Homo sapiens: one gene and its partners. The protein of the gene in region 2 purifies or fractionates together with the protein of the main gene of each other region. This does not show direct contact. Each region holds a gene or a part of one and is shown on either strand. Other genes may lie near its edges. The genes, in order: ECE1, RLN1, SUSD1, ITGA4, SEL1L3, LMLN and ART5.

Region 1 (3,500 bases), on a different chromosome or scaffold from region 2:
CTGAGATCATGAGACTCATTCTGCTGCCTTTTCCTTGAGAATCATTTAAGATGCTCCAGAGTGTCATGACGCAAGATCCTTGGGCCTCTGGAGGCATCCTGGGCAGAGCCCAGGATCCATGTCCTGTCCCTGAGGCTCCAGCGTTTCACCAGAACCAGGGAGAATTTTGCACCTGTCAAGAGCTGAGCCAGGCGCAGTGGCTCATGCTTGTAATGCCAACACTTTGGGTGGCTGAGGTGGGGGGATTGATTGAGCTCAGGAGTTTAAGACCAGCCCGGGCAACATAGTGAGACCTCATCTCTACAAAAAATGTAAAGATTAGCTGGGCATGTTGGCATGTGCCTATAGTCCCAGCTACATGGGAGGCTGAGATGGGAAGATCACTTATGCTCAAGAAGACAAGGCTGCAGCAAGCTGTGATTGCACCACTGCACTCCAGCGTGGGCGACAGAGCAAGACCCTGTCTCAAAAAAGCAGAAAAAAAGCTAGAAAGCTGGGCCGAGTAGTGAAAAGGGTGTACAGTGATGCCCTTGACAGTTCAGATAGATTTCTACTTTACTTATGAGATCTAGTATGGTAGCTACTAGCCACAGGTGGCTATTTAAATAATTAAAACTTAAATTAGTTTAAATTAAATTTAAAAGCCACACTTGCCACATTTGAAATGCTTATTAGTGGCCGGGCGTGGTGGCTCACGCCTGTAATCCCAGCACTTTGGGATGCCAAGGTGGGCTGATCACCTGAGGTCAGGAGTTTGAAACCAGCCTGGCCAATGTGGTGAAACCCCGTCTTTACTAAAAATACAAAAATTAGCTGGGCTTGGTGGCATGCGCCTGTAATCCCAGCTACTCTGGGAGGCTGAGGCACGAGAATCACTTAAACCAGGAGGTGGAGGTTGCAGTGAGCCAAGATCGTGCCATTGCACTCCAGCCTGGATGATAGATCAAGATTCCCGTCTCAAAAAAAAAAGAAAGAAAGAAATGCTTAGTAGTCTGCCATACTGGACAGCGCAGGCATAGAGCACAGAACATCCATCATCGCAGGAGGTTCTATTGGACAACATGGGAGATATTTCTTGCCTGGGCCCAGGCACTGCTGTAGGCACATCCTGCAACGGTGTCATTCCATCTCGTGCCCCAGGGTGAAGGCCAAGAGAAGAGCTGACCCTGCAGCCCCAAGCCCTGCATTCCGGTCTCCAGCCTGCAGATTAATCTCTTAACCATGACAGCCCTTGGCTTCCTGTCTTGGAAGATGCACACCACCGAGGGCACACTGTGATTGACTCCACTTCTTCTTTTCTAGTACACTGCAGTTCCAGACCTCTACTTTGAAAATGCCATGCGGTTTTTCAACTTCTCATGGAGGGTCACTGCCGATCAGCTCAGGAAAGCCCCCAACAGAGATCAGTGAGTTCCCCCAGGCCCTGCCGGCAAGGTGCCAGCTCCCCACCTGTGGGCAAGCCTTGGGACGAACTGGCCTTCATTGCACCCTCACTGTGCACCCGATCAGCTATCACGAGAGCCGTCTGAAGAGTGGATGCCCTTGTTATCCCACTTTTCAGATGAAGAAACCAAGGGCAAAAGAAGTATGGCCCAGCTAGGAGCTGGGATGGGCTTGAGCCTGCCCAGCCTGTTGGCAGGGTGAGCCTGGCCTCTGGAGCGGAGCCGATCTGGCACCTTGTCTCCGCTCCACTGCTTTGGGATTTGGAGCCTTCATTTCATTTTCCGCAGAATAGGATGGGAGGAGCTGGTTCTGGGGTCCTCATGGCAGTCAAATGTGAGGACCTCTGGGGAGCGCCAGACCCCAAGGAGGCCCCAGCAAGAGCAGCTTTCCCATTGTTCCTCACTACCACGAATGGTGGGATCTCAGGACAGGGAGCCCACAGAGGCCTGGGGAAGGTTCTGGATGGGCTTGACAGCTGTGCTTCCCAAAGCTCACTGCACATCAGAGTCCTCTGGGGAACTTTTTCAAAGATACAGCTTCCTGGCCGGGCGTGGTGGCTCACGCCTGTAATCCCAGCACTTTGGGAGGGCAAGACAGGTGGATCACCTGAACCCAGGAGTTTGAGACCAGCCATGGTCAACATGGCAAAACCCTGTCTCTACTAAAAATACAAAAATTAACCGGGTGTGGTGGCGCACACCTGTAGTCCCAGCTACTCAGGAGTGAGTAGCTGAGGCACGAGAATTGCTTGAACCCGGGAGGCGGAGGTTGCAGTGAGCCGAGATCGTGCCACTGCACTCCAGTCTGGGTGACAGAGCAAGACTCCATCTCAAAAAAAAAAAAAAAATACAGCTTCCTGACCTTAAATCAGGATAACCTAGAATGAGACCTGGTCTTTGTCCTTTTTATTACTGTCTCCTCAGGTCAATCACAGTAGCTCAGGCCTGCAATCCCAGCACTTTGCAGGCTGAGGTGGGCAGATCGCTTGAGCCTAAGACTTCAAGACCAGGTTGGGCGACATAGGGAGATGTGGTCTCTACAAAAAATTTTTAAAATTAGCTGGACGTGGTGGCACGAACCTGTAGTCCCAGCTACTGGGGAGGCAGAGGTGGGAGGATCACTAGAGCCCAGGAGGTCGAAGCTGCAGTGAGTCAAGATCATGCCACTGTACTCCAGCCTGGGCAACAGAGCGAGACCCTGCCTGAAAAAAAAGAAAGAAAGAAAAAAAAAAACTGTCTCCTCAAAAAAATTAGATGTAGTCAGCCCAGTTCCAGTCTTCAGTCCAAGGTCCTTCCATTCCTCAGTGCAAACATTTGGGATAAATCTTAGGGAAGGGTGCAATCAACTTCTCTTTGCCTCTGGTGCCCCCTGGTGGACTATAGGGGTTCAAACATCTCTATTTCCTTCATTTCCAGCCTCCAACCAGGACACCCCGCTATGTACAAGAAGGTGGGCTTTTACCTTCAGAACATGGCATAGGCTCTGTTGCCAGTTTATCTGAAGTATTTTAACTTAGCTTGAATGTTTTTATTTAAATTTCCTTGCCTACCCATTGAAGTATTTGTGATTATTTGAATATAAATATGATGTTTTAAATTCCTCCATATGGCCAGGTACAGCGGCCCACGCCTGTAATTCGAACGCTTTGAGAGGCCAAGGTGGGAGGATCTCTTGAGCTCAGAAGTTTGAGACCAGCCTGGGCAACATGGTGAAACCCCATCTCTACAAAAAATTTAAAAAATTAGCTGGACGTGGTAGCATGCGCTTGAGCCCAGGAGGTTGAGGTTGCGGTGAGCTACAGTTGTACCACTGCACTCCAGCCTGGGCTACAGAGCAAGACCCTGTCTCTAAAATAAATAAATACATAAATAGAGTTCTTGGCCAGGTACGGGGGCTCACACCGGTAATCCCAGTACTTTGGGAGGCCAAGGCGGGTAGATCACTTGAGGTCAGGAGTTCAAGACCAATCTGGCCAACATGGTGAAATCCCGTCTCTACTAAATATACAAAAATTAGCCACGCATGGTGGTAGACACCTGTAATCCCAGCTACTTGGG
Region 2 (4,040 bases):
AAATGACAGATGAGAATTTATATCATTTTTGGTTAAATGACAGGTTTTGGCATTTTCCCTCATTAAGACATCCTAAGTTTAATTCAATTTCCTCATAAAAACGTCTCTGTGCTCCAACCTAAACTGTCTGTAGTTGCAGTCTTATTAAATGCTGAAAAAAGCTGATGGTAATTTTCTGTATACTTAAAGCCAGTTAAATGAATCAGCCAAAACAGTTATAGATTGTATTCAGTTTATTCATAGGCTGTGTGTTTTGAACTTTTATTAAAATTATATTTTTAAACCTGTTTTGAAATATTTCATAATCCATAACACTTTTAGCTATGGAACCTAGGCTCAGAGAAAATATTCTGTCTGAATTCATGCAAATACCCTTAATTCACTGTATTTTGGATGCAAATCTTACTGAAATAGATCTCTGGTTTAAAGCGGATCTTATTTTTAAAAGGGATGCAGTGAATATTACTTTGGCACACATTGTAAGATAAAATGGTTATCTAACAGTGTAATAACGTGAAAGCAAGTAGCAATTACCTAACAGTATAAGTCTGAAAACTCATATTAATCACAAATTACTGACATGTACTTCCAAAGCGATTCCTACCTAGTAACGGTAAACATTTATCTTAATCCCACGTGCAGGCAATATTTTCTGAGGTTACTTTCAGTTAAATTATACTGCATAGCAATAAAGAAAATTCTTTAAAAATACTTTGAAATCTCATGTCTCTTCTAAAGAAATAAAAGTGTAGCTAAATATCTATATACAAATGTGATTAATGATTTTCAGCAACAATTTAGAAATAAACTAAATATCCACCAAAGAATCTTTAAGTTTATGTGGCAGATTTATGACAAAAATACTACACAGGAATTTCAAATTATGTTTTGGGATAATAACAATGTGAGAAACTGCTCAAAGTATAATGGTGAGTGAAAATGCAAAAGATATATACATATACCTATCCAAATGTTAACATTTCTTTCCACTTACTTGTTTAATATAATTTCATTTTCTCATAAAATTCACATATACTTTTCAAAGTCCTTAATATCTACGAGTGCTTCTCATTTTTCACGCTGCATTAATGTACATTTGTCTTTAATATGAGCATTACTACTTTTATAGTCAGAAAATGTGGAATAATAAAGCAAATGCAATGCAATCCGGTCTTCTCTACTTTTTATCACTAAATTCCTAGACGTTGTGGTATTTTTGTACTAATGTTATACAAAAGTCATGTAAAAACTGCCATTAAATAAATCAAACTCTAACAATGTAGAAAAGTAAATAACTTTAGAAGCATACTTTAAATCTCATAAAAGAGAAGTAAATGTATTTCTGTTAGAGTCATTTATATATAGTATATGCATATAGCCTATAAAATTTAGTTGCGGTTTATCATAAATTACATGTCATACTAATACAAAACACTTAGTATTTGCAACTGCGGTTACTTTCTCTGAATTTAATATGACCCGTTACACTTCTTAGACTAGTATATACCTCCATGAGTTTCCACTGCTACTTTATAAATACTAAAATATTTTTAAAAGCCATTTCAGATTGAGCTGTACTCAACTCTAAGAGCTTGCCTTTAAAGCAAACCCACTGCAGCTTCCAAATGCTTGAAAGCATCAGTAGGGTCTTCAGCTATGATGGTCTGAACGGCCTGCTTTCCTTGTCTCTGGTCCTCTTGAGTTTCTCCTAAAGGCATTCAAGCCTTTCCTTTCTCTTCCATCCCCTGCCTCACAAATGAACTTCAATACCCAGATCAAAGAAGCGGGAGGTCAGACTCTTTCCTTTGGGATTTTCTGTTTGTTTATTTTAAAGAACGTTTCCAATGGCAAAGGCCACAGCCCAACTTCTGGACTAGGAGAGTCATTAAGTGTAAGGCCCTTCCTGTCTTCCCATCACGGGACCCTCACAGAGACCTCAGAGTGTTGCCCCGTCCTACAGGCGCGCAAACAGGCTTGATAACTAGCGCGCCGCCTCAGTGTTTGTCCCCTCTCCTCTCTATCCGAGAAGCCCTGTTCAGGTGCCCCCACCAGCACGCCCGCTGTCTGGCCGCCTGGCTTTCCTGTGGGGTGCAGGAGTGCGCCCGGCCTCCTGCGGGTCTCCGGGCGGCGTCACCTCCTCTGAGGCTTCCCCTCCCTTTCCACCCCGTCGCTCTGACTGCCTTACGGAAAGGGCACCAAGGAACTCTCGGGTGAAGCAGCTTCCTGTTCTCAGTGCTTTCCCTCCGTCCGGTGAGATTCCCAGTGAGACTGTTTGAATAAAATCACCTGGCAAAGGAAAAGCCCAAACTTTAGGGACCAGCCACGGCTGAGTAGGGGCTGAGCGGTGGCAGCCAATGAGATCTCGAGTCGGACGTGCAGGCCGCCGTTCCAATTGGGCGGCCGCCCCAGAGTAACCAATGGGAAGCGCGGGAAGGCCGGGAGGGGGCGGGAGCTCTCACCTGCCACTGGTCTAGGTGTCTGAGGAGCATCTTCCTGGCTCAGAGACCTTTTGCTCCAGGTGCTCATGCCGCAAATGGCAATCTGCGCGCGAACTAATTCGCGGCCGCATAATTTAATAACATCGTCCTTCCATTTGGCCGCGACTGCTCTGGAAAATTGGTTCAGTAGTAAACAGAATTCTAGCAGGTGGAACAAGAACAGGCGAGGCATCCTGGGCCTGGTCTCTCCTGGAGGTCTGGGTGTTGCAGCCTTTCAGGACTGCGGCTGCTGTGGCCTACACACCTGGGCCTGTGTGCCTGTCCCGGGCTTTAGGCTGCTTTCCCTACCCGGCTCAACCAGTCTTTAGTATGGGCTATCACTCAGCTTTTAAGGCAAGGTTGCCAGCTCCACCCCTTTCCCACACCCCTCCACAGAATTTTCTCCTTCAGCTCTTGTTCTGCCTCTCCGCCCTTCCTTCATTTGCCCATTCCTCTGTCCTTGGCCCTTTTACAGTTTTGTTTTTCGCTCTTTTGTTACCCTGAAACAACTTTGTATACTTAGGTAAAGTTATTTTAGATATGAAGCCTTTCTTTTTACATACACAGAAATAAAATTGAGATCGCCAATATTCTTACAACCCAGTTTTCCAGAGTGAACATTTGCCAAAAACCCTTCTAACCTAAATAGGATTATAGATTACCTTATAAATTGGATTAATTAGTATAATGTTGGGCATATCAATCCATAAAAATATAATGGATGAATGAATAAATTGTTGATGAGAGGGAAAACTGATGACTTTTAATCTGAATCCAGGTAAAAAGATTAAAATCCCCAGTAACATCATTTTAGGCTTGTGCAGTAATGTCTTTAATTTACAAAACAATTTCTCCATTGGACTTTCCTTCCACTCCTGTGGGAGAAGTTTGATTGTAACTAGTTGTCTAAATATTTTAATTTAAAATTCTAGTCTATGTCTCTGGAGACTGGAGAACACACCACACACACAGAGAGAGAGAAAGAGAGAGAGAAAAGAAGAAGAGAAAGAAGAAGGGGAAAAAAAGCAGTGGACATCCCACATTCCCAGAAATAATATTTTGATAACAAATTACAGCACAAGGATATGTTCATTTGTTTACTGTATTTTGTGTTTGCTGCACCTGGTTAGAGGTGATTCTTTTTTTATTACCACCACCTAATTTAGCATTTTAAAGATCCACACAGTTCTAGATAATATGGTTAGTAGACGACCCTTCTACCTGTAAATTTTTAGTACAAATAGGTTCATTTTTAAAAATAACTTACTTGCTTGTGTTCATAATATACTCAGATTAGTTCAGCTCCATCAGATAAACTGGAGACATGCAGGACGTTATGGTAGCTTTGAAATAAAATAATAACAATCTCTTAGTTACAAACATAACTATGGAATCAAGTAATTCTAATTTCTAGATTGCTGGTGATTTCAGTAGGCCCACTTAACATTGGTCAAATGCCAAGCAATGTGTAATTCTTCAAAAAATACCTGACCAAAGCTATGAGATGGTTAGAGGCAATTAATGATTTTAAATGGATTTTCACTAAAACACACAGTTTGAGAA
Region 3 (3,007 bases), about 110 Mb from region 2:
GTAGGGTAACCAAAGGATGGTGAGGCTATAAAAAATACAATTCAAATTTGCCAGTTGTAAATTTTCTTATTAAGGAATTAATGAGGAAAGTCTCTAAAGAAGCTTGTGTGGCAACACTTGTGAGCACTCTTGATTAGATTGACTCAGATTTTTAGAGTATATATGCAAAGTAGACAAAAAGACATATAACCAGGAACTGATCTACCAGCAAGAATCATTCCTGGAGCCAAACCCAAATTGTGCTATGCAGAATAAATAAAGATCATTTTCCAATACTATGTCTAGAGTAAGGAATAGTTGTGCCCAGGTAGATCCTGCTGGTGGATGGTCAAGTGAAAGTCAGCTTCCTTAACTCCTACTTAGCTTTTGTCCTCTTCGTTTGTGAGGGGATAGTTAGAAGAAAGAAAAGAGCTTGCTACCCTACATAGGTTCAAGTCTTCCAACATGGATGTAGCGTATTCTGGCAGGTTCATACAATTTTCACATGAGATGGATAAACCATTGCAAATGATCTTCAATAAACCTTGAAGAAAATGGAGAGATGTAAGAGGACTAGAGATGAGCAAAGAACAAGGAACTTTGTACAAAGGAAGAACCACCAGAAGTGTAGATGATGGTAACTTGAAGTCAAGGCAAAGCAAGGTCTTCAAGTGATGGCTTGTGTATCCCTGGTAGAAAAAACAGCAGTTCCCGGGAGTCAGGAGCTTTAAGAGCAGATTAGGTCAGATTGCTTTCCATTTCTTCTTGCACAGAGTCAGTAATTGGTCAGGGAAATATGGCACGCATAATAACAATAATGTCCTTGTGGACAATGTGGGGACATGAGAGCTGTATGTGGGCTTAGAAACAAGCTGAATGGCTATGCACAGTTGATATCAACTCATTAACAATTATTGATGAGTTGAAATCAAACCCAAGAATATGCATGATATGGATTTCTGTCCACAGTCATCTTCAGTTCAACATATTCATCAATCAGTGATTAAAATATACAGAGGGTTAAAGTGTAGAGGAAAAAATACACAGAAAAAAACTTGATGTCAGAAGTTGGAAGGAATACTGGGTAGATCGGATGAAATGCCAGTGCAGTAAAGTACCAGCTCCCCCGTTCATCTCCAGAATTGTATTTTCTCTTAAAAACAAAACAAAACAAAACAAATCTAGTTAATTAGTCCACCAAGATGGCATTTAAAAAAATGTTTCTGAGTCATGCACAAAGATGGCATCTTAATGCCTTAATTTGCATTTTTATTACTTGTAAGAGAGCATTTGCTCAAAGTTTTATTGATCATCTGTAATCATGTTTTTCATGTGATTTACCTTTTCGTAGAATTTTCTCATTTCGCTATTGAGGTATGTCTTTATTAATCTGTAACACTCTCTGTATGTTAACTTCTTGCCCATTATTCTAGATATTTTATCCAGCTTGCCATTTGCCTTTTAATCTTGCTTATGGTAGTTTTTGGTATAAGAAGTGCATGCTTTTTAAAGTGGTTAAATCTCTCATTCTCTTAAGGTTTCTGTGTTAACGAATATGCTTAGAAATTTCTTACCCCCTTTAATATTAGGTAAATATTCACTAACATTTCCTAATCCTTTTAGGTTTCAATTTAAGTCTGTAATCCATCTGGATTTTATTTTGATATATGGTGTAAGCTCTAGTGATCAAAATTATTTGATTCTAAATGGTTAGCCAATTTTCTCAGCACTGGTTATGAAAAATTTATCATTTCCCCAATGATCTGAAACAGTATCAAAACAACAAAAACAATAATAATTAACAATAGCTAACATTTGCTTATTGCTTATTCTGTGCCAGGCACTGTTTCAACCTGTACTAACTCACTGACTTCTCCCACTACCTAGAGGTGGGTAGTATTGCTATCATTCCCATGTTATTACAGCATCCCTCAGTGTGGGGACTGAGACACAGAATGGATGAATAACTTGCACAAAGTCACACAGGCAGTGGTGGTGTTCAGATAAAGACTTGGACATCTGACTCCAGTATTCAAACTTTGAAAGTATTTGATATGCTTGGATTTGTTTCTAGGCTATTTTGTTCCAATGTATTCATTCCTATTCTAATACTGCACTGTTTTACTGTCTTGCAATTCAAGTCACTCTCCTAATATTTTTTCTTTACTAATTCTTCACTTAATCACTGTTTCTCCTTCCATTTTATAATCTAGTTTCTTGGCTGGGCATGGTGGCTCATGCCTATAATTCTAGCACTTTGGGAGGCCAAGATGGGCAGATCGCCTGAGGTCAAGAGTTCGAGACCAGCCTGGCCAACATGGTGAAGCCCTGTCTCTACTAAAATACAAAAACTAGCCGGGCGTGGTGGAGTACACCTGTAGTCCCAGCTACTAGGGAGACTGGGGCAGGAGAATCGCTTGAATCCGGGAGGTGGAGGTTGCAGTGAGCCGAGATCATGCCACTGCACTCCAGCCTGGGTGACAGAGCAAGACTCTGTCTCAAAAAATAATAATAAATAAAAATAAAATAAAACAAAATAAGTAATCTAGCTTCTTAAAGTGTCAAGGCCATTTTTCTTCTATAGACTAAAAGCAACCAAATAATATAAGCCATGTTTTCTAGAAAGGCTCTTGGCAGCATTTTTTGAGAATTAGTAACCGCCCAATGAGTTTTCCTTGCCTGCTGCCTAGACAGAGCTGATTTATCAAGACAGAGGAATTGCAATAAAGAGCTTAATTCACACAGAGCCAACTGTATGGGAGACTGGAGTTTTATTATTACTCAAATCAGTCTCCCTGAAAATTCAGGGATGGGGTTTTTAAGGATTACTTAGTGGGTAGGGGGTAGGGGATGGGGGGGTCAGTGAGTCAGAAGTGCTGATTGGTTGGGTTGGAGATGAAATCACAGAGTCGAAGCTGTCCTCTTGCACTGAGTCAATTTCTGGTTGGGGGCCACAAGATCAGATGAACCAGTTTATGGATCTGGGTGATGCCAGCCGATCCATGGAGTGCAGGGTCTGGAAAATATC
Region 4 (3,500 bases), on a different chromosome or scaffold from region 2:
AGCCCAATATGTAATTGTGTTCCCCTTGTATCTGAGAGGCCTGTGTTGGACAACCATAGTACTCTGCTTTCACTGTGCTCAGATAACCTGAAATATATAGTTGTTTCTGAGTAGTTCTGAGTAGGAAAGAACCAAATGTAAATTTCCTTAGAGACCATCCTGGAGAAGACAGTTCTAAATCGGGGCTTGATTTTTCATCTATGATCCTAGATGTTCTCCTGAAAGAATGACTAGCCTTTTTATAACGATACAAAGTTTTTTAAAAATACATAAATGTCATAAAGTTTATTCCTGTGTATACACACTCTGGGTTCAGGAGGTTTTGTGCTTACATTTCACTACTCAAATGCCTTCGCAAATCTCAGAACATTCCTCACCATCACTGCAGGCCTGTGAACAGATAACTTTCATCAATTAGGATGGCTGGCTAGTGGCAGGGACTTCATATAAAGAAATCTTTCCCAGAATTGTTTTTCCACATTGCCTTCTAATTTGATCACTCCCTATAACAGATGTTCAAAATTCGGCCACAGCTCTCTTATGAAGGCAGAGTCAGATAAAATGATATTCTGCAATTATCTAGATCATAAGCATAAAATAAATATTACAAAAATGATTGTATTTAAAGAAATTTTTTAAAATCCAGAAAGTCATTTAAAATAGAACCTCATATAGTATGAACAAACTATAAAAATATTTTACATTTCATGAAAATTTTGCTGTCGTCTCATTTATATTCACTGTATACAAATTGAATCAGTATCTTTCAGCTAAATTTATGAATTTAAATTTATGAATTTTGTTTCTTCGTTTCCATGTAAGGTAACACTTATACTTGTAAAGGGTAACAAAGAATTACATCCAAGGAAATAGTTGTGTGATAGTCAATATTTTACATAGTACATAATACATATGAAGTATAGGCCCCCTAGTCTTTGCACAGCTTTGATTTTAAAGTTATTAGTGAGGTATGGTTTCTGTATTTTCTAAATCAGCGTGTATCAGGTAAAGTGCAACACTCACAATCTTTTGTTTCAGAATATAACAAAAGATTTGAAGATTACTCCTGGGTATGCTTGATAAAGGTGTGTTATAGGAAGAATAGATAGGAAGAATGGTAAATATATACCTACATAAAAACACATGTATATATACAGAAAGAAAGATGGTGAAATCCATAATTATAAAAAAATAATTATCCAGAAGTAATTTCACTAAGCTCAAACCAGTGTACATGTTCAGTCTGAAGTTTGCCAGTTTGGCCTATAATACTATAATATTCATAGTCTGCTGAAAAAAAATGGTTGTTGGAACACAGCCCGTAGGAAATGTATTATAAATAAAGGGCTTTAAAGTGATAATGGTCCACTCGTTAGAAAATTTGGGAACAGCTCTCTAAAAAATTATATTTTTAAAGAACATATTTTGAACAAGTATCAAAGATGTATTTGAAATGAACCTCTGCCCACCCAGTGGGGTTCATTTTACTGAGGCAAGCACATATGGTAAGTAGTATTTCAAGTCTAAGACTTCTCCAGTATAATTTAACTCAGTTATACTTTCATTTCAAGATATCTTCAAGGGCTTACTTTTCTTGAATAAATTGAATGCTTTAGTGTTTCTCTACCCATTTAAAAGCTGAGAGATTATCTTTGGCTGTATTATTACCTTTGCAGTTCTTCTATCTCAAAGAGTAATCATTGCTGAGATTTTCCCCTTGCATGAAGACATAATATGTCACAAGATCATGAGTAAAAGAAGTCCAAACAAAATTCATTTTTTCTTGTAAACAGTGTCTTTTAAATTTCTTTACTACAACCTGAGTCTGTTTTCCATTCTCTCAATTTGAAAGAAGTCCTTAATCATCATTGCTTTTACTGTTGATATAACTCCAACTGTCTCTTCTGTTTTCTTCTTGTAGGATAGATTTGTATTGTCTTTTAAAGAAGCCAGCCTGAAAATAGCATAACATAATCACTAGTGTATAGTTATGAACACTCTCTTATCTACTATACTCATTTCTAATATCTAAGCAGTTAACACCAATATTTCTTAAACTGCATCCCTTGTAACATCAGTCATAAAGGTTTAACAGAGGTAATCAGTAAAAATTAGTGGGGACATACTGGGTTAAAGAAACATTTTTGTTTTTAATGCAGAAATTCTCAGTGATACACACCACATTCTCTCCAAAATTGACATTCCGTGTAATTTGCAATCTTTTCCAAATGGTTTTTTAAAAGGAACGTCTGTCTTTCAAAACAAATTAAGAATGCATATTTTTCTAGAAAGACTTTGGTGTTGAAGAGAAATGTGAGATCAGTACTGAGCAACATAAAAAGTTAACATTCAAATAGTGAAATATTTAAATCTAATAACTTGGAAGTCAAATTGGCTTTGAGAAAATGTCATTTTTAGTAGACTAATGTTGGTAATTGTTAAATGCTTACCTTCCACATAACATATGAGATCAATAGAAGTACAATAAGTCCAAGTAGCAAGCTACTTGAAATAATCACTATGGTGAAATAACGTTTGGGTCTTTGATGATGTAGTCCTTCCAGTAGAACCTACGTGAGTTAAGAAAAATAAAACTCAAAAACCAAAAAAAAAAATCAGTTTAAAACGTTGCTTATATTTCCTTTAAAGCCCTGCCATAATCCCCAGTAGTATTTAGAACTGCCCAGCCCATTTTCTTGCTGGTTCTAATATAATTGCAGGAAACACTGGTAACTGTTTAGCAGAAACAGTGAGTGTAATGGGCTGTATCCATGACTTTTCCTCCAATCTATTCAATTCTCACTGCTGCCCAATTCACCTCTCTGAAAGAACTGCTGTATTGTTCCCTCCTGCCAGTTGTGGAAAATGCCAACTCTCAACCAAGTATTGGGGGCCCTCCATGAGCTGGTCACACTCTACTTTCCCAACTCAGTTACTCAGAAGGAAGTAATTATAGACACCCTTGAAATGTGTTTTCCTATAATTTTAATGTAGCAGTTAAGAGGGTAATCTTACATGCGCAACATTCTCATCCTTGTTTAGTTCAATTACTCTTGGATTTGGCTCTGGAAAACCTGTTGCTCTTATTTCAAACTTGAGTGCTGAAGTCTCATCCTGTTTAATAAAAGAAGGATCACCATAGCCTGGTTTATTTCATAAAGACATAATTTATCAGGATCTTTACCTTCTAGCTAGAGGTTTTCACAATTTACCTTCCCCAATTTATTTCACCACTTAAAATTAACTGCAGTGCCTCCTTTGGTTCCCAAAGTGTGGTCTTGGTATTAATTTATATAGTATCATTTTATTGAAATCCTTTGATTAAACAGCTACCTTGCAAATAACTTGATTTAAATATTAGACTACAGAAAGAGGTAAGTTACCATTTACCATTGTTCTCCACCCCACCACCGCATATTGAATCTATCTTATTTGGGCTTTTTATTTCTTTCTAAATTAAATACATTATAGAATTCAAATATAAAATCAGTGGATGAACT
Region 5 (3,500 bases), on a different chromosome or scaffold from region 2:
CCTGACTAAGTAGATGAAGGACTGGGCCTAGGAATTTGCATTTGCAACAAGCATTTGTGATTCTGTCACAGGTGGTCCTAGGGCCACAGTTGAGGAAACAACTGGGCGCATGTGTGGGGAGGGCTCCCCACTGAGGGGGCAGAAGAAGAGCTGGCAGGCACTCGGCATCCACAGAGCAAGGCGCTCCTTGCACCAATGGAGAGAACTTCAGAGTGCCGCCTCTCAGCACATGCCTGAGATCTCCAGCCCCACGGCTTAAGGGAGGCTGCAGAAGGGCCTTGGAGCCTCCGGGATTGGTCCTGCTGAGGCTGTGACCATGTGGCATTTAGGATAAAATGCAGAGTGTGGACTCTATCATCATCACAGCTTCTCACTGAGTGCTGATGATGTGCTGAGCAATCACATCTCATTTAGTCCTCACAGCACTGCTCTGAAGGAACTGCTTGTTATCCCCATTTTACAGATAGGAAAACTGAGGCTCAGAGACTTCCAAGGTTACAGAGATAGAAAGTGGCAGGACAGGAATCAGGCCCAGCCAGAGGTTACCATTCTGTGGTACAACCTCCCTTTCTGTTGGAAGGGTTCCTTTAGGTTCTCATCTCCTCCAGGATAAAACACTCTGCTTAAAAATAATAGAGGCCCCGGCATGGTGGCTCACACCTGTAATCCCAGCATTTTGGGAGGCTAAGGCAGGCAGATCGCCTGAGGTCAGGAGTTTGAGACCAGCCTGGCCAACATGGTGAAACCCCATCTCTACTAAAAATACAAAAATTAGCCTGGCATGGTGGTGGGTGCCTGTAATCCCAGCTACTCGGGAGGCTGAGGCAGGAGAATTGCTTGAACCTGGGAGGCGGAGGTTGCAGTGAGCCGAGTGAGATCTCGCCACTGCACTCCAGCCTGGGCAACAGAACAAGACTCCATCTCAAAAAAAAAAAAAAAAAAAAAAGAGGAAACTTTAGCAGGCTTGTTGGAAGGTGAGTGGGAAGATTTTCCCAATCCTTGTTTCGGTGGCATGAATACTCCTTTCCAGCTTAAAGCAGATCTAACCCTCTCAAAGTCCACCTTCCTCAGCTCCTCTGTTCTGTTCTTTCATCTTTGGTCCTGCTCTCTCCTAATCTTTCTCCTCTCTTCCCCTTTTAATTTTTCTCCTTTTGTCTTCAAACTCCAAAGTTACAGACTCATTGTGTCCCTCCATCTTCCCTGTATCCCCCTTCGCTAATAGAAGAATTTTCTCTTGCCATTCGATCATGATACAGGCTATCTGAAAAAATGAGAATTAGGTTCCTAGCAAGATAGATGACCTACCATTTTCCAGAGGACACTGTGGAATCCTGTTTGCCCGAAGGTTCCAAATATAACCCATGTTCCACTCAAGGCACACTTGATGATCTTTGAAAGGGCGTTCAAAAGGCGGGATGGTCTGCAGGAGGGTATAATTCTTTGCTACAGCATGGAGCAAGTTTTCCTCCCATTTAACATTCCAGTCTCTGCCACTGTATTTGTGAGTAATCCAGGCGCGTACTATCACTGCAGATACAGAGATGGAATGTCTGATGAAATAATCATCTCTGTAAACCATAATGCTTGGAAATTTCACATGTACTATTTGTGTCCTGCTGGTGTGAAGATGTTTCTCATTCTTCCACCTTTTTTTGTACACGGGAATGCTACTTCTGAACTCAGATGAAACAACTGCTTCCAAATTGACAACACAAGGCTGAGAGCATAAATACTCAACCGAGACTTCAGAAACGTTGCGAACGTTTCCTTCAAAGACAGTAAAATAAATAAAGTCTTTGTAAGCCACGCTCTGCTCAGCTTTGGGTATCACTGATGTCGTCAGGGAAGTCTGCCTACCCAAAGATGGTACAACATTCTGAAAAAAAGAAAAAGAAAGTAAGAAATACAGAAAGTTTAAAAATCCTCATCATAACAGATACTTGAATCATTATTTTCCTGGGATAAAAAAATATCAATCTACATAAAGCAATGAATGAATGCGGGAGATAAAAGATGTCAAAACCACTACTGAAGAATTGGGGAAAAACCAACACACAAATACAAAGGAAGATGAGGCCACATTAAACTCTCTCCCCAGACACAGTAACATCTGCTGATCAGAATGTGACTGTCACATCTACATGGCAATAATTCCAGAGTTGGTTTTCAAAGGCAGAAGTTGGTTCACAACAAATCCAGTAGCAAGGGAACCTGCCTTAGAATAAAACAGAGACAATGCAGCTTCAGACATTTTCAAACCATTGTCCTGACTTTAAATGGTGGGTCAGACACTACCAAATCAAAGGGTGGCAGAAAAGTGAAAAGTGCACCCTCGAGGGAACATAACAGGGATGCCAACCTGGCCCCTTTTTCTCCCATAAGTTTGAAGCCAGGGCAAGCCTGCATGATATATGGACAGGCAAGAGGCTTCTATTGCTCCTGGTCACACACAAGTAAGCTCAGACGATGGGCTGTGTTGTCTGATTCTTTCACCACAGACAATGCTACATGCACCAAGAAGGATTTTAGCTGAATGTTTATTTATCTGGTCATGAAATCAATGCAAGGTTTTGAGCATGAGGTGCTGATATGTGAGTGCTAAGAGCTCTCCTAAATATGACTTTGTGATTCAAGTATCCAAAACACAATAGAAAAAGGTCACTTTGGACCACTGCATATCCATTAGGGTGGCTATTATTAAACACACACAACGCATACACACAGAGAGAAAATAACAAGTGTTGGTGAAGATGTGGAGAAACTGGAACCCTTATGCACTCTTAATGAGAATGTAAAATGGTGTGGCTACTATGGAAAATAGTATAGCAGTTCCTCAAATAAATTAGACACAGAATTATCATATGATCAGACTGGGCGTGGTGGCTCATGCCTTCAATCCCATAACTTTGGGAGGCCCAGGTGGGTGGATCACTTGAGGTCAGGAGTTCAAGACCAGCCTGGTCAACATGGTGAAACCCTGTCTTTACTAATAATACAAAAATCAGTTGGGCAAGGTGGTGCACACCTGTAATTCCAGCTCCTTGGGAGGCTGAGGCAGGAGAATCACTTGAACCCGGGAGGTGGAGGTTGCAGTGAGCCAAGATCACACCACTGCACTCCACCCTGGGCAACAGAGTGAGACTCCATCTCAAAAAAGAATTATGGTATGATCAGACCCAGCAATTCCACTTCTGGATATACACCCCAAAAATTTAAAGCAAGGACTTGAAGAGATGTTTGTACACCCGTGTTCATAACAGCATTACTCACGCTAGCCAAAAGCAACCCCAAGGGTCCATCCATGGATGAATGGGTAGAAAAAATGTGGTATATACATGGGATGGAATATTATTCAGCCCATAAAAGGGAATGAAATTCTGATGTATGCTGTAAAATGGATGAACTTTGAGGAGATGAGGCTAAGGAAAACAAGCTAGACACAAGAGAACAGACATTATATCATCCGCCTACATGAAGCACCTAGAGTAGTCAAACTCACA
Region 6 (3,500 bases), on a different chromosome or scaffold from region 2:
CTACGTTTGATCTATTAATATAACATAGTAACAGTCACAGATTTTCACAATACGTATTGCCTGCTCTGCTATGATGGCCTGACACCCTACTTCCAGTATTTTACTCATTCCATTCCAACCTATCTCCAGGTAACAGATTATTTTATGGCCCTTAAAAAACCATCAGAGGCCAGACACGGTGGCTCACGCCTGTAATCCCAGCACTTTGGGACTTTGGGAGGCCGAGGCAGGCAGATCACAAGGTCAGGAGACTGAGACCATCCTGGCTAACATGGTGAAACCCCATCTCTACTAAAAATACAAAAAAATTAGCCGGGCATGGTGGCAGGCGCCTGTAGTCCCAGCTACTTGGGAGGGTGAGGCAGGAGAATTGCTAGAACCCAGGAGGTGGAGCTTGCAGTGAGCCGAGATTTTGTCACTGCACTCCAGCCTGGGCAACAGAGCAAGACTCCGTCTCAAAAAAAAAAAAAAATCAGAAATGTCTGAGCACAGCAAATGGATATGGTACATTTTAGCAATCCATTACATGACTAACCTCCCCACAGATAACACATTACAAAGTCCGGACAAAATATACTGTCTGACAGTATTTTGGGGAGGGAGAAAGACAGAATCTGGAAGAATCTACTCTTGGAATACAGGAATTGTATCTCTGAGATTTGCAAGTCTAACTTTGGCTTGAGAGCACTACCTAATCTGTGTCTCTTGGAGTGGCAGGAAGTCAGAGCCTCACTGGCTTGAGGAGCTACAGCAAAATGTTCAGAACTTGTATCACCAGAAAATTAGAAGTTAGAGAGGAAATCTTGCAAGAGAAGAAGCCACAGAAGGTACCCCAAAATCTGCATATGAAACCCAGTCAAATATTTGACTGACCACTAAATTCCTTGGCTGACAACGAAATTACATATGTATGCGATAAAACCCAGCAAAGAATAAATGTTGCCAACAACAGGAGATAAGAGTTTGGAATTTTGAATACAGTTAAGTTAAACGCCAGCTACAAAAAAAAAAAAATTATTCAGAGAAATACAACAGAATCCAGACTTTACAATATATTATCTATGGTGTCCATTATTTAATAAAAAATCAGCAGCAATGAGAACAAAATGGGAAAATGAGATCCACAATGGGGGAAAAAGCAGGGAATAGAAACAGACCCTAAGAGGACCTGAATTTAAACAACTAGTTTAATGCAGCTGAAATGTGTTCAGGAACTTAAAAGAAAACATACACATAATGAGTAAGCAGATAGTGAACCTCAGAAGAGACACTATGAAAAGAACCAAAGAAAAAAGAGCCAAATGGAAATTCTAGAGCTTAAAAGTATAACAATTAAAATGAAAAATTCATTGGGGCCGGACACGGTGGCTCATGCCTGTAATCCCAGCACTTTGGGAGGCTGAGGTGGGTGGATCACTTGAGGTCAGGAGTTCCAGACCAGCCTGGCCAACATGGTGAGACCCTGTCTCCACTAAAAATACAAAAATTAGCCAGGCGTGGTGGTGCACACCTGTAATCCCAGCACTCCAGAGGCTGAGGCAGGAGAACTGCTTGAACTCGGGAGACGGTGGTTGCAGTGAGCCAAGACTGCACCATCACCCTACAGCCTGGGTGACAGAGCAAGACAGTCTCAAAAAAAAAAATTCACTAGAAAGAATTAAAAGAAGATTGGAGATGGCAGAAGCATCAGTGAACTTGAAGATAGATCTAGACATTATCCAATCCGAAGAAGAGAAATGAAAAAGACTAAAAAAAAAAAAAAAAAAAAAAAAGAACAGAGACTCAGAGAATGGGTACCAAGCAGTCTAGCAGATAGGTAATTAGAGTCCTATAAGGACAGGAGAAAATATGAGACAGAATATATATTTGAAAGAAATAACAGCTAAAAAATTTCAAATTTGGTGAAAGACATCAACTTACAGATCCAAGAAGTTCACTAAACCTCAAGCAGGATAAAAAACAAACAAGGCTGGGCGTGGTGGTTCATGCCTGTAATCCCAGCTCCTCAGGAAGCTGAGGCATGAGAATCACTTGAACCCGGGAGGCGGAGGTTTCAGTGAGCCAAGATCGTGCCACTGCACTCCAGCCTGGGCAACAGAGTGAGACTTTGTCCCCAAAAACAAACAAACAACAACCAGGTACATCATAGGCAAACTTGTGACATCTAAAAATAAAGATAAAATATTGAAAGCAATGAGAGAAAAACAACACATTTTATATGGTTTGGCTCTGCATCCCCAGCCAAATTGCATCTTAAATTGTAATCCCACATGTCAAGGGAAGGAGGTGACTGGATCATGGGGGTGTTTCCCCATGCTGTTCTCATGATAGTGAGTTCTCACAAGATCTGATGGTTTTATAAGCAAGCCTCTGGCATTTCCCCTGCTTGTACTTCTCTCTCCTGCCACCATGTAAAGAAGGTCCTTGCTTCTCCTTCATCTTCCACCATGATTGTAAGTTTCCTGAGGCCTCCCCAGCCATGTGGAACTGTAAACCACTTTCCTTTATAAATTACCCAGTCTCAGGTAGTATCTTTATAGCAGTGTGAGAACTAATACAACATTATACATAGGAAGGGAAGAGAAGTACGAATGGCATTGACTTTCTGTGAAGAACAATAAAGAACAGAAGACAATGAAATAAACAGGAAAGGGCTAAAATAAAGAAATTCAACACAGAAGTCTATATCCAATGAAAGTACCCTTCAAAAATGAAGAGGAAATAAAGACATTTCACATACATCTGAGAAAACTGATCACCAGCAGACCTACACTACAGGAAATGCTAAAAGAAGTTATTCGTGGGAATGGAAATAACACAAAAGGGTAACCTGTTTCTGTAGGAAGAAATAAAAGCTATTGGAAATGGTAAATACGTGAATAGATATGAAAGACTATTGTGCAGAAGAGTCAACACAGCAGGTCAGAGATTGCTGCTCTCTGTAGGAAGTCCTGCTTGCAAGGTTGACCTTTTGCTGGCATCTAGAAGTGTAATTTAAAACTTCACTAGGTTATAAGGATGGCTCATTGTGTCTAAACTATTTGCAGAAACAATATGGTTTATGTTGAACATTTGCTTGCTTCTGGAGTCTGAAATTTCAGTGGCTGAAATTTTGTCTACGTGACCAGCCTCCAATAAAAACCCTGGACTCTAAGAATCAGGTAATCTTCCCTGGTAGACCACACTTTGTGCACGCTGTCACAACTCACTGCTGAAGGAATTAAGCAGGTCCTAAGTGACTCTACTAGGAGAGGACTCTTGGAAGTTTTTGCCTAATTTCCTCTAGTCTTTGTCCCATGATCCTTTTCCCTTTGCTGATTTTACTTTGTATGCCTTCACTGTAATAAATCTCAGCTGTGAGTATGACGACAAGCTGAATCTAGCGAGGCCACCTAGCAATCACCAAACCTGGAGTGGTCTTGGGAATCCTCAACACAATTATACACACTTCTTTTCTTCTGTTAATTTCTTTGGAGACAAATAAATATTTAAAGCAAAAA
Region 7 (4,186 bases), on a different chromosome or scaffold from region 2:
ACTCTTTCCAGATTGCCTTTCCATCCCTCTTCCCACCCAAGACCCAGTCACTCTTCCATCTCTCCCTGCCTTAGCACTTGGGAATGGCACATACGTGCCCTGTCAGCCCCATCGAGCCCAGGGCCCCCCTGAGACCTGAAGCAGTCCCCTTGGCTCTTTCTGCTGCTTGCTAATCTCCTTAACCAGGTTCTTTTGGTCTATTAGACCATGTAGCAGATGGACCCTTTTGAGGACATATAGAATCATCTAAGAATGTTCACGAATCTAGAAAACACTTATAGGACCCCAAAAAACCTGAGTCACAGAGGACAGCAACTCCAGCTGACTTCCAGCCCTCATTTCCCCTTTAACCAAGTGGGTCTCCCGAAGGCCCCGGGGATTATTGTGTAAGGACATCCTGGCTTATTTCACCCACACTGCCAGTCCTGCTTCCCCCATGCACAGCTTACCACCCAGATAGGCGCAGTTAAAATGGCTACAGGTCTGATTATAGCTCCAGAGAGTCACCAAGCTCTGGGCTCCATCCTGAGAGAATCTGGTAACCAAAAAGACTTCATGGGGGGGAATCAGCACCTCGCGCTCCTTGGGAAAGACAGAGAAGGCCTGTATAGGGGCCCCAAAGCAAGTTGTTAGAGAGAAGAGGGTGGCATTACCAAATCTGTGGGCCACTGCCTTATCCAGGGAGCTGGAGGCAAACTGGCCCAAGCGGACAGAGTCTCCCAGCCTCTTGGGTTCAAAGCGAAGGCTGCCCACACCTCGGAACACCACCTCCCCAGGTCCCCTGCTGCAGCCCCCACTGCCTCGCAGCAGCTGCAGGGCCCGGATCAGGTAGAAATGCAGGGCCTTGAAGGGAAAGTGCCTCATGTAGAGCTCCCGGGAGCCTCCGCCCGTCCGCACGGCCTGATTCAACTCCCAGTACAAGGTGTTCGATGAGTTGGTGTAGACCATAATGGCTATTCCATTCTGGGCTTTGAAGCCAGGGGGCAAGGTAAGCCCTCGACGCTTGTCCTCCCAGGTCTCCTGGGCTGCCTCCCAGGATTCCCGCAGCAGGGCATGGTGGGCCATTTCCTCCTTTAGCAGGGGGGCTGCCTTCTCCTCCATCTCCTCTGCACAACCCACATAGGTATCGTCAAAGGTGTCTGGAGCCAGGCCCAGGGGCAGGATGGGAACAGCCTGGGCCTGTGGAGCAAAAGAGGTGCCACACCGAAAAGAGCATAAGTTCAGAGCACTGGACATGGGTCCTGGGGGCAAACCCATCCAGAAACACAGAATCTCATTTCTATCCCTAAATATCAGGTATATGCAATTTGGCAAGGGCCCAATAAGAGGCTTAAATAACACAGGCACTGGAGTCAGTCAGACATGGACTGAAATCTTTTTTTTTTTTTTTTTTTTTTGATGGAGTCTTGCTCTGTTGCCCAGGCTGGAGTGCAGTGGTGAGATCTCGGCTCACTGCAAGCGCCACCTCCCAGGTTGGAGTGATTCTCCCACCTCAGCCTCCCAACTAACTGGGATTACCTGTGCATGCCACCATGCCTGGCTAATTTGTTTTTGTGTTTGTTTCTTTGAGACGAAGTCTCGCTCTGTTGCCCAGGCCGGAGTACAATGGCACGATCTTGGCTCACTGCAACCTCTGCCTCCCGGGTTCAAGCAATTCTCCTCTCTCAGCCTCCCAAGTAGCTAGGATTACAGGTGCGCAATACCACGCCCAGCTAATTTTTTGTATTTTTAGTAGAGACAGGGTTTCACCATGTTGGTCAGGCTGGTCTCGAACTCCTGACCTCAAGTGATCCACCAGCCTCAGCCTCCCAAAGTGCTGGGATTACAGGAGTGAGCCACCGCGCGCAGGCTGAAATCTTGACTTTACCACCTATTAGCTGTGAGGCCTTGGGCAAGTGTCATAACTTTTCTGGACTTGAGGATACTTCCAACCTCACAGTTATTATGAAGACAGCATAAAGAGCATTACTTCTGTACAACCTAAAAGGGGTCATCCTGTCATTAGAAAGGTTCTTGCAGTCGGTGGGAGGTGGGACTAGATGACTATCAAGCACTTTTCCGGCTGTAAGATCTGGCAGGCAGGTGATGTGCAAATATTACACACAGCCAGTGTCCAGCTGCCTAACCCCCAGCCCCATTCTCCTCGGGCTCTCTTTCCCTCTCATCCAGCAGGAAGCCCTTGCAGGTAGGTGCTCAGCCACCACACCAAATCACTGTGAGCTCTGAGACGCCTGAGTCCTCCCCTGCTCTGTACCCACATTTGGGGTAGGGGTGGTGGGGAGGCCAAGCCTTGGTTGGGACGGGCTGCCAGGACTGCAGCACACAGGTAACCCAAGGAGGCTTTGCCGGGCTGTGCCTGCGCTGGGAGATGAGAGGTGGGGAGGAGAACGTTGGAGGCATCCAGAGAGGGATGGAGATGGGGGTTCTAGGAGACAGAATGGGAACTTGGGGCTCCCTGCAGAGATGGAGGTTCCTGAGAGGAAGAGAGTTAAGAGTGGAATCCTAGGGAAGAGTCCCTGGGAGAGGGATGTGAGGAGTCAGCCCCGGGTCCACTTCCTCAGGGTCTGTCCCTTAATGTCCCCCTTGGGGCTAGGAGATGGTTCCTGGAGTTACCTGCCAGGTGTGGAGGCCGAGGCTGCCGAGGGCGATCATCAAAGCCGCCAGCGCCATCCCTGGAGGAGACGTGAGGGCCAGGGGTCCGGGTGAGGGCGGGACCAGAGGTGCTGGAGTCCTGGTTTCGAGGGGCTGGAGGCAGATCTGGACCCTGTCTCCAGGCGCACGGGATCCCGGGTCCAGGATTAGGGCCCCGGCGGGGCGTGGGCGGGGCCTGGGAGTTTATTGCCCGCCCCCCGCCCCAAGTCTCCGCCCCCGACTCCCCACACCCCTTCCTCAGAGCCTCCAGTCTGGGGACCTTTCCGAGACTGTAAAGGCGGGGCCGCAGTTTGGCTCCGCCTGAGAGGGGAGGGCCGGGGGCGGAGGACCCACTTGAAGGCTGCGGAAGCCGCCAGCGGGAGGGAGCGCCGAGGGCTCTGGCGGGCGCTGCGCTGTCCCCGGAGGAGTCCGGAGTCCGGCTGAAAGCAAAGGTTCTCGAGGCTAACTGTAGCCCCCGCGCTGGTAACCCGACACCCCTTTCCCAGCGCCGCACGCGGGGCCGGGAGCGGGCGCGCCAGGGCAGGGACTGAGGAGCAATTCCCTTTCTCAAGGCCTGCGGGGTCTTTCTGCGGGACCCTCTTTGGCTGTGAGTGATGGGGAGGAAACTTGTGAGACTCGGCCTCTCCCTCAGGCGGGCCCTGACCCGGTCGGCCCCTGGTCCCCGGCCCACCAGGCCAGGGGCCCCGCGGGGGTCCCGCCGGCCGAGAGGTCGCCCCCGGAGCACTGCGATTTGCATACAGTTTGCATTTGGCCCACACCCTGGGCCACGTGCTCCAGCATCTGAGCAGCGCCCACTCCCTGCCTGCTCTGGGCCCTCTCCCCATTCGCCTTCAGTGGGGTTGGGCCAGAGACAGAGCCCTTGGTCGCAGATCCACAGGGTCCGGTCTCGCCCCTCCCCCAGACCGCTCTCGTGGCCGCTCAGACTCAGGTGACCCATGTTTGTAAACACTGGCCTTTCCCCCACCTCCTCTGGGCTTATCTATAAATAACCTGGCTCTGAGTTTTGGATGCCCCGTCAGAGGTCATGGGAGAAGGGGCCAGCGGAGGAATTGGTAACTCAGGGAAGAGCTTCCTAGCAGCCAGAGCCAGGAGGAGGTGGGGTTGTCACCCCTCCTTCCCCCAGCGGCCGGAGGGTCGCCGAAAGCTAGGATTTGAGAAATGCTGCCTGCTGGGGCTGAGGTGGGCACGAAAGATTAGAGCTACCCAAAGGAATCCATCCTGGTCTGGCTCATTAATTTTCCCCATCCCTGTCCCCCCATCCCCTCAGAGTGTCAGCCAAATAAAAAGTTTCCTCCACCTAGAATCCTGCTATCTCCCAGAATCCTTTCTGTAGACCAAACGGGAAGACATACGGTGGGTCCAGGCTTGGAGGAGGGTGGGGAGGGAGGTGCTTCTGAGTGCTTGTTAGAAAAACAGCTCCAGGGCAGGGCGCAGTGGCTCCCGCCTGTAATCCCAGCACTTTGGGAGGCTGAAGTGGGAGGATCACGAGGTCAGGAGTTCGGGACCAGCCTGGCCAACAAAGATTAGCCGGGCG

The links.
Region 1: the proteins of RLN1 (region 2) and ECE1 purify together in Homo sapiens (affinity purification with mass spectrometry; one large-scale study listed by BioGRID and IntAct). This does not show direct contact.
Region 3: the proteins of RLN1 (region 2) and SUSD1 purify together in Homo sapiens (affinity purification with mass spectrometry; one large-scale study listed by BioGRID and IntAct). This does not show direct contact.
Region 4: the proteins of RLN1 (region 2) and ITGA4 purify together in Homo sapiens (affinity purification with mass spectrometry; one large-scale study listed by BioGRID and IntAct). This does not show direct contact.
Region 5: the proteins of RLN1 (region 2) and SEL1L3 purify together in Homo sapiens (affinity purification with mass spectrometry; one large-scale study listed by BioGRID and IntAct). This does not show direct contact.
Region 6: the proteins of RLN1 (region 2) and LMLN purify together in Homo sapiens (affinity purification with mass spectrometry; one large-scale study listed by BioGRID and IntAct). This does not show direct contact.
Region 7: the proteins of RLN1 (region 2) and ART5 purify together in Homo sapiens (affinity purification with mass spectrometry; one large-scale study listed by BioGRID and IntAct). This does not show direct contact.

What each region holds. Positions count from the first base shown.
Region 1 is NC_000001.11:21,231,464-21,234,963, reverse strand, and holds part of ECE1 (endothelin-converting enzyme 1), read left to right. Parts: intron 1-1,302; coding exon 1,303-1,406; intron 1,407-3,500. UniProt on the Homo sapiens protein: Converts big endothelin-1 to endothelin-1.
Region 2 is NC_000009.12:5,337,077-5,341,116, forward strand, and holds the start of RLN1 (prorelaxin H1 preproprotein), read right to left. Parts: upstream 2,801-4,040; 5' UTR 2,671-2,800; coding exon 2,460-2,670; intron 2,352-2,459; exon of another isoform or gene 2,287-2,351; coding exon of another isoform or gene 2,186-2,286; intron 1-2,185. UniProt on the Homo sapiens protein: Relaxin is an ovarian hormone that acts with estrogen to produce dilatation of the birth canal in many mammals. May be involved in remodeling of connective tissues during pregnancy, promoting growth of pubic ligaments and ripening of the cervix.
Region 3 is NC_000009.12:112,043,291-112,046,297, reverse strand, and holds part of SUSD1 (sushi domain-containing protein 1 isoform 2 precursor), read left to right. Parts: intron 1-3,007.
Region 4 is NC_000002.12:181,533,886-181,537,385, reverse strand, and holds part of ITGA4 (integrin alpha-4 isoform 1 preproprotein), read right to left. Parts: intron 3,115-3,500; coding exon 3,016-3,114; intron 2,571-3,015; coding exon 2,451-2,570; intron 1,955-2,450; coding exon 1,859-1,954; 3' UTR 1-1,858. UniProt on the Homo sapiens protein: Integrins alpha-4/beta-1 (VLA-4) and alpha-4/beta-7 are receptors for fibronectin. They recognize one or more domains within the alternatively spliced CS-1 and CS-5 regions of fibronectin. They are also receptors for VCAM1.
Region 5 is NC_000004.12:25,845,989-25,849,488, forward strand, and holds part of SEL1L3 (protein sel-1 homolog 3), read right to left. Parts: intron 1,877-3,500; coding exon 1,306-1,876; intron 1-1,305.
Region 6 is NC_000003.12:197,970,217-197,973,716, reverse strand, and holds part of LMLN (leishmanolysin-like peptidase isoform 1 precursor), read right to left. Parts: intron 1-3,500. UniProt on the Homo sapiens protein: Metalloprotease.
Region 7 is NC_000011.10:3,639,193-3,643,378, forward strand, and holds the start of ART5 (ecto-ADP-ribosyltransferase 5 isoform a precursor), read right to left. Parts: upstream 2,801-4,186; 5' UTR 2,671-2,800; coding exon 2,614-2,670; intron 1,180-2,613; coding exon 450-1,179; intron 1-449.